Regions from separate parts of the Homo sapiens genome. Here region 2 is linked to region 1. The links come from fine-mapping of genetic effects on gene expression. Tissue or cell type: whole blood. Region 1 holds a variant in brackets; the other region holds the start of a gene. All regions are shown on one strand. Distances are from middle to middle. Region 1 has its middle 53 kb from the start of MAN1A1. Region 2 holds the start of MAN1A1 (mannosidase alpha class 1A member 1).

What was found. PIP is the estimated chance that this variant, and not a neighbour inherited with it, causes the effect.
Region 2: MAN1A1 starts here. The variant in region 1 is fine-mapped to the expression of MAN1A1 in whole blood (TOPMed, PIP above 0.99).

Annotation. Positions count from the first base shown.
Region 1 is chr6:119,400,256-119,405,774 of GRCh38, forward strand. No RefSeq gene overlaps it. Among named protein-coding and RNA genes, the nearest start is that of MAN1A1, 53 kb to the left of the region's middle. The variant G/A (reference allele first, on the strand shown) is at 2,705.
Region 2 is chr6:119,347,624-119,352,623 of GRCh38, forward strand. It overlaps MAN1A1 (mannosidase alpha class 1A member 1), which reads right to left and starts at 2,138. Exons shown (of 13, transcript NM_005907.4): 1 at 1,919-2,138; 2 at 840-1,664. The coding sequence starts at 1,442. RefSeq lists an enhancer at 609-958 and silencers at 1,169-1,288, 1,349-1,548, 2,059-2,698.

The sequences.
Region 1 (5,519 bases):
GTCACTCCCACCCTAATACTGCGCTTTTCCAATGGTCTTAGCAAACGGCACACCAGGAGATTATATCCCGTGCATGGCTCGGAGGGTCCTACGCCCATGGAGCCTCGCTCATTGCTAGCACAGCAGTCTGAGATCAAACTGCAAGGCGGCAGCGAGGCTGGGGGAGGGGCGCCCGCCATTGCCAAGGCTTGAGTAGGTAAACAAAGCAGCCGGGGAGCTCGAACTGGGTGGAGCTCACCGCAGCTCAAGGAGGCCTGCCTGCCTCTGTAGACTCCACCTCTGGGGGCAGGGCATTGCCAAACAAAAGGCAGCAGAATCCTCTGCAGACTTAAATGTCCCTGTCTGACAGCTTTGAAGAGAGTAGTGGTTCTCCCAGCAGGCAGCTGGAGATCTGAGAACGGACAGACAGCCTCCTCAAGTGGGTCCCTGACCCCCGAATAGCCTAACTGGGAGGCACCCCCCAGTAGGGGCAGACTGACACATCACACTGCCGGGTCCTCCTCTGAGGCAAAACTTCCAGAGGAATGATCAGACAGCAACATTTGCTGTTCACTAATATCCGCTGTTCTGCAGCCTCCGCTGCTGATACCCAGGCCAACAGGGTCTGGAGTAGACCTCCAGCAAACTCCAACAGACCTGTAGCTGAGGGTCCTGACTGTTAGAAGGAAAACTAACAAACAGAAAGGACATCCACACCAAAACCCCATCTGTACGTCACCATCATCAAAGACCACAGGTAGATAAAACCACAAAGATGGGGAAAAAACAGAGGAGAAAAACTGGAAACTGAAAATCAGAGTGCCTCTCTTCCTCCAAAGAAACGCAGCTCCTCACTAGCAACAGAACAAAGTTGGATGGAGAATGACTTTGACGAGTTGAGAGAAAAAGGCTTCAGAAGATCAAACTACTCCGAGCTAAAGGAGGAAGTCTGAACCCATGGCAAAGAAGTTAAAAACCTTGGAAAAAATTTAGATGAATGGCTAACTAGAATAACCAATGCAGAGAAGTCCTTAAAGGACCTGATGGAGCTGAAAACCAAGGCACGAGAACTATGTGACAAATGCACGAGCCTCAGTAGCCGATTTGATCAATTGGAAGAAAGAGTATCAGTGATGGAAGATCAAATGAATGAAATGAAGCAAGAAGAGAAGTTTAGAGAAAAAAGAATAAAAAGAAGCAAACAAAGCCTCCAAGAAATATGGGACTATGTGAAAAGACCAAATCTACGTCTGATTGGTGTACCTGAAAGTGATGGGGAGAATGGAACCAAGTTGGAAAACACTCTGCAGAATATTATCCAGGAGAACTTCCCCAATCTAGCAAGGCAGGCCAACATTCAAATTCGGGAAATACAGAGAATGCCACAAAGATACTCCTCGAGAAGAGCAACTCCAAGACACATAATTGTCAGATACACCAAAGTTGAAATGAAGGAAAAAATGTTACAGGCAATCAGAGAGAAAGGTCAGGTTACCCACAAAGGGAAGCCCATCAGACCAACAGCGGATCTCTCGGCAGAAACTCTACAAGCCAGAAGAGAGTGGGGGCCAATATTTAACATTCTTAAAGAAAAGAATTTTCAACCCAGAATTTCATATCCAGCCAAACTAAGCTTCATAAGTGAAGGAGAAATAAAATCCTTTACAGACAAGCAAATGCTGGGAGATTTTGTCACCACCAGGCCTGCCCTAAAAGAGCTCCTGAAGGAAGCACTAAACATGGAAAGGAACAACTGGTACTAGCCACTGCAAAAACATGCCTAATTGTAAAGACCATTGAGACTAGGAAGAAACTGCATCAACTAACGAGCAAAATAACCAGCTAACATCATAATGACAGGATCAAATTCACACATAACAATATTAACCTTAAATGTAAATGGGCTAAATGCTCCAATTAAAAGACACAGACTGGCAAATTGGATAAAGAGTCAAGACCCATCAGTGTGCTGTATTCAGGAGACCCATCTCATGTGCAGAGACACACATAGGCTCAAAATAAAGGGATGGAGGAAGATCTGCCAAGCAAATGGAAAACAAAAAAAGGCAGGGGTTGCAATCCTAGTCTCTGATAAAACAGACTTTGAACCAACAAAGATCAAAAGAGACAAAGAAGGCCATTACATAATGGTAAAGGGATCAATTCAACAAGAAGAGCTAACTATCCTAAATATATATGCACCCAATACAGGAGCACCCAGATTCATAAAGAAAGTCCTTAGAGAACTACAAAGAGACTTAGACTCCCACACAATAATAATGGGAGAGTTTAACACCCCACTGTCAACATTAGACAGATCAATGAGACGGAAAGTTAACAAGGATATCCAGGAATTGGACTCAGCTCTGCAACAAGTGGACCTAATAGACATATACAGAACTCTCCACTCCAAATCAACAGAATATACATTCTTCTCAGCACCACACTGCACTTATTCCAAAATTGATCACATAGTTGGAAGTAAAGCACTCCTCAGCAAATATAAAAGAACAGAAACTATAACAAACTGTCTCTCAGACCAAAGTAGAACTCAGGATTAAGAAACTCACTCAAAACCGCTCAACTGCCTGGAAACTGAACAACCTGCTCCTGAATGACTACTGGGTACATAATGAAATGAAGGCAGAAATAAAGATGTTCTTTGAAACCAACAAGAACAAAGACACAACATACCAGAATCTCTGGGACACATTCAAAGCAGTGT[G/A]TAGAGGGAAATTTATAGCACTAAATGCCCACAAGAGAAAGCAGGAAAGTTCTAAAATTGACACCCTAACATCATAATTAAAAGAACTAGAAAAGCAAGAGCAAACACATGCAAAAGCTAGCAGAAGGCAAGAAATAACTTAAGATCAGAGCAGAACTGAAGGAAATAGAGACACAAAAAACCCTTCGAAAAAATCAATGAATCCAGGAGCTGGTTTTTTGAAAAGATCAACAAAATTGATAGACTGCTAGCAAGCCTAATAAAGAAAAATTAAGGGAGAAGAATCAAATAGACACAATAAAAAATGATAAAGGAGATATCACCACCGATCTCCAAGAAGTACAAACTACCATCAGAGAATACTATAAACACCTATACGCAAAGAAACTAGAAAATCTAGAAGAAAGGGATAAATTCCTCGACACATACACCCTCCCAAGACTAAACCAGGAAGAAGCTGAATCTCTGAATAGACCAATAACAGGCTCTGAAATTGAGGCAATAATTAATAGCTTACCAACCAAAAAAAGTCCAGGACCAGATGGATTCACAGCCGAATTCTACCAGAGGTACAAGGAGGAGCTGGTACGATTCCTTCTGAAACTATTCCAATCAACAGAAAAAGAGGGAATCCTCCCTAACTCATTTTATGAGGCCAGCATCATCCTGATACCAAAGCCTGGCAGAGACACAACCAAAAAAGAGAATTTTAGACCAATACCCCTGACGAACATCAGTGCAAAAATCCTCAATAAAATACTGGCAAACCGAATCCAGCAGCACATCAAAAACTTATCCACCATGATCAAGTGGGCTTCATCCCTGGGATGCAAGGCTGGTTCAACATATGCAAATCAATAAACATGATCCAGCATATAAACTGAACCAACTACAAAAACCATATGATTATCTCATTAGATGCAGAAAAGGCCTTTGACAAAATTCAACAAACCTTCATGCTAAAAACTCTCAATAAATTAGGTACTGATGGGACATATCTCAAAATAATAAGAGCTATCTATGACAAACCCACAGCCAATATCATATTGAATGAGCAAAAACTGGAAGCATTCCCTTTGAAAACTGGCACAAGACAGGGATGCCCTCTCTCACCACTCCTATTCAACACAGTGTTGGAAGTTCTGGCTGGGGCAATCAGGCAGGAGAAGGAAATAAAGGGTATTCAATTAGGAAAAGAGGAAGGCAAATTGTCCCTGTTTGCAGATGACATGTTTGTATATTTAGAAAACCCCATCGTCTCAGCCCAAAATCTCCTTAAGCTGATAGGCAACTTCAGCAAAGTCTCAGGATACAAAATCAATGTGCAAAAATCACAAGCATTCTTATACACCAACAACAGACAAACAGAGAGCCAAATCATGAGTGAACTCCCATTCACAATTGCTTCAAAGAGAATAAAATACCTAGGAATCCAACTTACAAGGGACATGAAGGACCTCTTCAAGGGGAACTGCAAACCACTGCTCAATGAAATAAAAGAGGATACAAACAAATGGAAGAACATTCCATGCTCATGGGTAGGAAGAATCAACATTGTGAAAATGGCCATACTGCCCAAGGTAATTTATAGATTCAATGCCATCCCCATCAAGCTACCAATGACTTTCTTCACAGAATTGGAAAAAAACTACTTTCAAGTTCATATGGAACCAAAAAAGAGCCTGCATCACCAAGTCAATCCTAAGCCAAAAGAACAAAGCTGGAGGCATCACGCTACCTGACTTCAAACTATACTACAAGGCTACAGTAACCAAAACAGCATGGTACTGGTACCAAAACAGAGATATAGATCAATGGAACAGAACAGAGCCCTCAGTAATAATGCTGCATATCTACAACCATCTTATCTTTGACAAACCTGACAAAAACAAGAAATGGGGAAAGGATTCCCTATTTAATAAATGGTGCTGGGAAAACTGGCTAGCCATATGTAGAATGCTGAAACTGGATCCCTTCCTTACACCTTACACAAAAGTTAATTCAAGATGGATTAAAGACTTACATGTTAGACTGAAAACCATAAAAACCCTAGAAGAAAACCTAGGCAATACCATTCAGGAAACAGGCATGGGCAAGGACTTCATGTCTTTGCCCAAACACCAAAAGCAATGGCAACAAAAGCCAAAATTGACAAATGGGATCTAATTAAACTAAGGAGCTTCTGCACAGCAAAAGAAACTACCATCAGAGTGAACAGGCAACCCACAAAATGGGAGAAAATTTTTGCAATCTACTCATCTACAGAATCTACAATGAACTCCAACAAATTTACAAGAAAAAAACAACCCCATCAACAAGTGGGCGAAGGGTATGAACAGACACTTCTCAAAAGAAGACATTTATGCAGCCAAAACACACATGAAAAAATGCTCATCATCACTGGCCATCAGAGAATGCAAATCAAAACCACAATGAGATACCATCTCACACCAGTTAGAATGGCAATCATTAAAAATTCAGGAAACAACAGGTGCTGGAGAGGATGTGGAGAAATAGGAACACTTTTACACTGGTGGTGGGACTGTAAACGAGTTCAACCATGGTGGAAGTCAGTGTGGCAATTCCTCAGGGATCTAGAACTAGTAATACCATTTTACCCAGCCATTCCATTACTGGGTATATACCCAAAGGATTATAAATCATGCTGCTATAAAGACACATGCACAGGTATGTTTATTGCAGTTCTATTCACAATAGCAAAGACTTGGAACCAACCCAAATGTCCAACAATGATAGACTGGATTAAGAAAATGTGAAACATATACACCATGGAATACTATGCAGCCATAAAAAA
Region 2 (5,000 bases), 53 kb before region 1:
GTTCTAGAGCTCTGGGCCCTTCGATCTTCATCTTGAAAATGACAGCCTGAAAGGACTTTTTACGGCCCCCTTCAGCTTTAAGCTGGTCCTGACCTAATCACATGTTTCAAGTTCTAACTGAAAATTACGAGAAGGAAATTAGGAAAGATGTATCAAAGTCCATGTTTATCCTGGATTAACTTTGTCACCATTGTGCTGCTGTGGAGGCAAACCTGTTGCATCACATGGAATACCCTATTTCTGGCTGTGCATTAGAAATACAAGAGGCAGCCGACTGGCTTTTTATATTTTCATTTTTTAAAAAAGTAAACAATAGTATCCCTCGATGATGGGAAGTTCTCAGGTTTCACCTTTATAGTCTGAAAGTACACACAGAATGCCACCTGGCAGACAAGGGCCACACAGCTGAACCCGGGGTATGCTGGCTAGCTTTACCACGCGTGAAGACTCACTTTAAAGCCACGTCCCCAATCCTTACCAGGGGGCTGATCAGTGCCGTCGCTGTTACTGGTGGGGCGATTAACCGTGTAGCGGCCAGAGAATGAGGTTTGCGTATTACCTGCCCATGTATTTATACCCACCTCGTGTGGCTTGTGGTCACCAGAGCAAGAGCATGCAAATTAAAAGCAACGAGATTTGACCTTAGATCTTACTGGACACATCTACTACTATATTGGAAACAGGAAAAGAAAGAGCTTTTGACACAGCACCTGGTGGAAGGGGCAAACCTCCATCTCCCCATACATTGCATTGTTGCAGTCTTCAGAGTTTCAAAGGCTTGCCGTTTCTCCCTGAAAAACACGGCCGGTCGGGAGGGATTTCTGGCGCGGCCCACTCACCTCTTTGATCTTTGCCCTTTTCTCGCGGATGGCGGCGTCGGCGGGCTCCCGGCTCTCCACCCCGATTGGGGGCACGAAGTCCACCGGGGGCAGGCCTCTGAACGGCGCCTTGTCACGCAGCTGGTCCTGGGCCACCTTCTTCTTCTCCAGTAGGATGTCTCTTTGGATCTCCTCGGGCAGCTTCTGCAGGGTCTCCTTGGCTTCCCTGAGAGCCCGCTCGTGGTTTTCGCGGATCCTGGCCAAGTTGTCCTCCAGGGCGGCCTCCGGGTCCCCGGGTGCCCCCTCCTCGCGGCGCCGGGCTCGCCCCTCGGCCGCGTCCTCGGCGCGCGCCCCGGGCCCGGGCTTGTGGTCGGCGGCCGGCTGCAAGGCGGGGCTGGAGTGGAACAGGACCCCGCTGAGCAGCTTGGAGGAGTCTGGCAGGAAGAAGATCGCCCCGAAGCAGAGCGTGATGAAGGCGCTGAATACCAGCAGCAGCACGAACTTCTCCGTCAGGCGGAGGGCGGCGGGGCCCGACCCCTTCCTGCCACCGCCGCCGCCGAGCCCCCCGCCCAGGACGCCGCCCGCGGGGCTGCTGAAGAGCGGCAACAGGCCCCCCACGGGCATCGCTCCCGCTGTCCAGTGGTCCGGCGCCGCGCCGCTCAGCAGCCAAACTTCGCCGCCGCTGGGAGTCCGCGGCTGCGGGGCTGGGTCCTGCGTAGCCAGGCCGCCCGACCCCCTCGGCTGGGCTGCGGATCCTCCCTGGGGGAACAACTCCGCGCCGGGTCTTCTCCCCGGGGCGGCTCCTCGGGCACACAGGCACGCGCGACAGACCGCTGGCTGCAGCCCCTGCGGGGAGAGAAACAGTAAAACGTAGTAATTACGGCGATGATAAAGTTTCCAGCGGGTCTCCGCCCTCCGACTCCTGGCGAGCCTCCAGGACCGCTCCCCTTAAGCAGAGTCCTGTCCAGTCCGGGCACCGCCCTCGCAGCCCACTCTCTGGACTTGGGGTGAAGTTATCAGGTCCCGTGGGTAGGGGAGGGGTGTCCCGCGCAGGAAGGGGTCAGGGCAGCGCGCGAGCACCTCGGGGAGGGGCAGCGCACCTCTGGGCAGGAGGGGCGCAGCGTGGGCGGGAGACTCGTCAACTTCGCCCGCTCCCCATCTCCGCGCTGAGACTGCTGCCTCTTTCCTAGGCTGGGCTGAGCGCGCTGTCCCACGGTCCCGCAGCCCCGGCGCGGCTCAGGTGGGCGAGCGCGCCGACCTGCGGGCGAATGGCAGCGAGTAGAGCAGCACGGTACACTCCGCCGCGGCCCCGCGAGCACTAATCTCACTGCCGGTCTTGGGGCGGTGGAAAGCGAGGGAGGCGACGCGGCCGGAGAGTGACGGCGCGGCCGGGCCAATCACGCGCCGCCCAGGGTCCCGCGGGGGCGGGGCCGAGGCGAGGAGGGGGATGCGCGGGGCGGGGAGTTTACGGGAAGCGCAGCCTCGGCGGGGCCCGGCCGGCGGCGGGGAGGTCGCGGGGCCGGGAGGCGCGAGGTAGGCGGGAGCCGCGGTGAGGAGGACGGTCGAACCCGTGGCTGAGGCCCAGCGCCGAGAAGCGGCAGGCAGAGTTCGGGGTCGGGGAGTTTATCCTGCGCTGGCCTCGGCAGGGGTCCCCGGGGTGGTTGATCCTCGACTGGCCCGGGAGGCGCCTGGGTCCGCGCGGGACCTCTCTGCCTCCTCCTCCGACCCGTGCGGGGCGGTCGGGGGCGCTCCCGAGGGGGTCCCGGGAAAGGCGGGGTCTGGCAGGGGGTCCTGGGCGCTGGGTCGTTCAGAAGCACGGCTTTACTCCAGTTACCCTCTTTTTATCCAAGGCCGGGGTTCCCCGGGTGCCTGGTAGCAGTGAAACCCCAAGTCCCTCGGTTAGGGGAGCCGTGACCCTGGGAGCTTTTGAGCTCTCTGGTATAACATCCTTTTACATCCTAAGAGACACAGTTCTGTGCTTGCTTAGGACTTTTTTCGTATGCGCCCTTTCTTCCCCCAAAAAACAAAAAACCGAAAAAACTTGTATGTCTCTCCCGCCCACCCGTACTTTCACTATTCATTTACCTCATAGAAGTTGGTCAAATTTTCCATTCGAAGACGAGTTTTATGCTGCGGTAGCTTCAAGCAATAAGTCGAACACTGTGTTGAAATTAAGTCTTGGATCCGACTACTTCCAGCGAAGTGAGGAGTTGGTCCAATAGAAATTATTTTCCAAAATGTGTTGTAATTCTCCTGTTGCTCCACAAATAAGGGGTTATCAGAGAGGAAAACGTTGACTGACTTCGCATTTCTGAAAGCTGGTTTGTAGTCGCCTTATTTCATCCTTACCCTTCTCTGGAAATGTGACATTAGTTCTGTTTGTGCTTAAGACAAAGGAAACAGCTGGCACCTTTCGGGAAGGTGGCTCCAGTACAGTTGTTTCCAGGTGTTAAGCTGTATGAGAAAGTAGAAAAGTAATCAGAAATCCTTACTAGTTTTCATTTAATCATTTAATTATTAATTTTAACCATCATTATTTGTCGTCTACTTGTTTTGTGTAAAATGAGTAATACACTCAAAGTTCTTGTTAATAGGAAATTATTGTTTGATAAAGCTGGCTTTATGGCTTGGTTATTTTGATACCTGCTATGAAATTCTATGTCCAGAAGAGTGCAGCATATCCAAGCAGGGTAATAAGTTCAGAAGGACTGAAAAAGAAAACAAAGATGATTTTTCTTTAATGATGGAAAGGCAATTTTTATTTCAAACGATTATGCATTTGTAGGTTGTGCATAGGCTGAAAGGTTTGAATCACTGTGAAATAATGTTTCTAACAACATCCTTAAAACTGAGTTACCTCTTGAATGGATAGATAAATAGGAACTGGGTTAACTACCCCAAACGCTAATCTCTTTATGATCATCCTTTTTTGGAATGATTTATTATTTTAAAAATTATGTTGTAAGAATGGAATTATAGCCCCGGAAATATTTAGAAGCTTTATTTCAAATTAATGTTATTAAGTATTCCAGCAAAACAATAAATTCCACTTTTAAGTATATGTTAAAATGGTGATAAATAAAAGTTATAACTTAATTCTATTTCTGACACTTTAATTTTGATACCAAATCAGTTTGGGCATTTAACTTCTGTAGTGGAAATATTAAAAATTTAGTACGTGGGTTTAAGGATTTTTTCCCCTAAAAACTTTAAATTTATCTATGTTGTTTCTACATCTTTTAAAGTAACTATTCTTTTTAAGTTCATCATGAAGCTTATTTTAAGATTTTTTTCTTATTTTCCGTATTTCTTAAATGACAGGGTTATACTTGCAGCCTGGCTTTGATAATATGTTAAACAAGAAGTTAACATGGGTGGTTGATTATAGGTACATATTAAAGGGTGTCTGTGTACATTAGGTGGGATAAGAACTATATAGGAACACCAATATTTGGGCCAGAGCAAATTTGAAAAATTCACAAAGAAGGTATCTGAAGAGGCATAGCAATCGAATTATGCATCCTCTTTAAAATAATCACATGAAGCCCTGTGTGCTCATGGTAAGGGAGGAGTAGAAAATAGTCAACAAGTAAAATTGTGCATTTTGTAGAAGCAAAATCGGACACTTTCCTCTGATTTCAGTACTACAAAGCACTTGACATTCTACCATTGAAAAAAGTACTTTGTACCCTGAGATAAAAATAAAGGTGATTGGTTCTTGTCTTTTAAGTAATGAAACCTTGACTTTGTCCCCTAAGTCAAGACTCCCTAGCCACATCTACCTGAAGGTAATGTCACCATCTTTATGAATGCAATGATAGTGCTGAAATTGCTGTTTCTCATTATGGATGGTCTAATGTAAACCTAAGAACCTTAGTAATTTTGTGGGATTTTTAAAAAAATACTTGCTATGTTTTTTTATTTGGCCAGCCAGTCCTTTTGAAGTATAACTCTCTTGTAATTTTTGCAGGTTTGCTTGCAAACTTAATTCTTACATTTTCCTTTTTCAATACTTAATGTTTTTGTGTATTTCTTTGATAATTTGTAAATTTTTGTGTTTCAAGATTATATCTTTGAATCAAGTAATTTTTTAAAAACCTGATCATCAGTGATACCACAAAACACTACAAAGAAATCCCCAAATAAATGTTGTTGCTTAGATTTTTCTACTTTCAAAAGAAA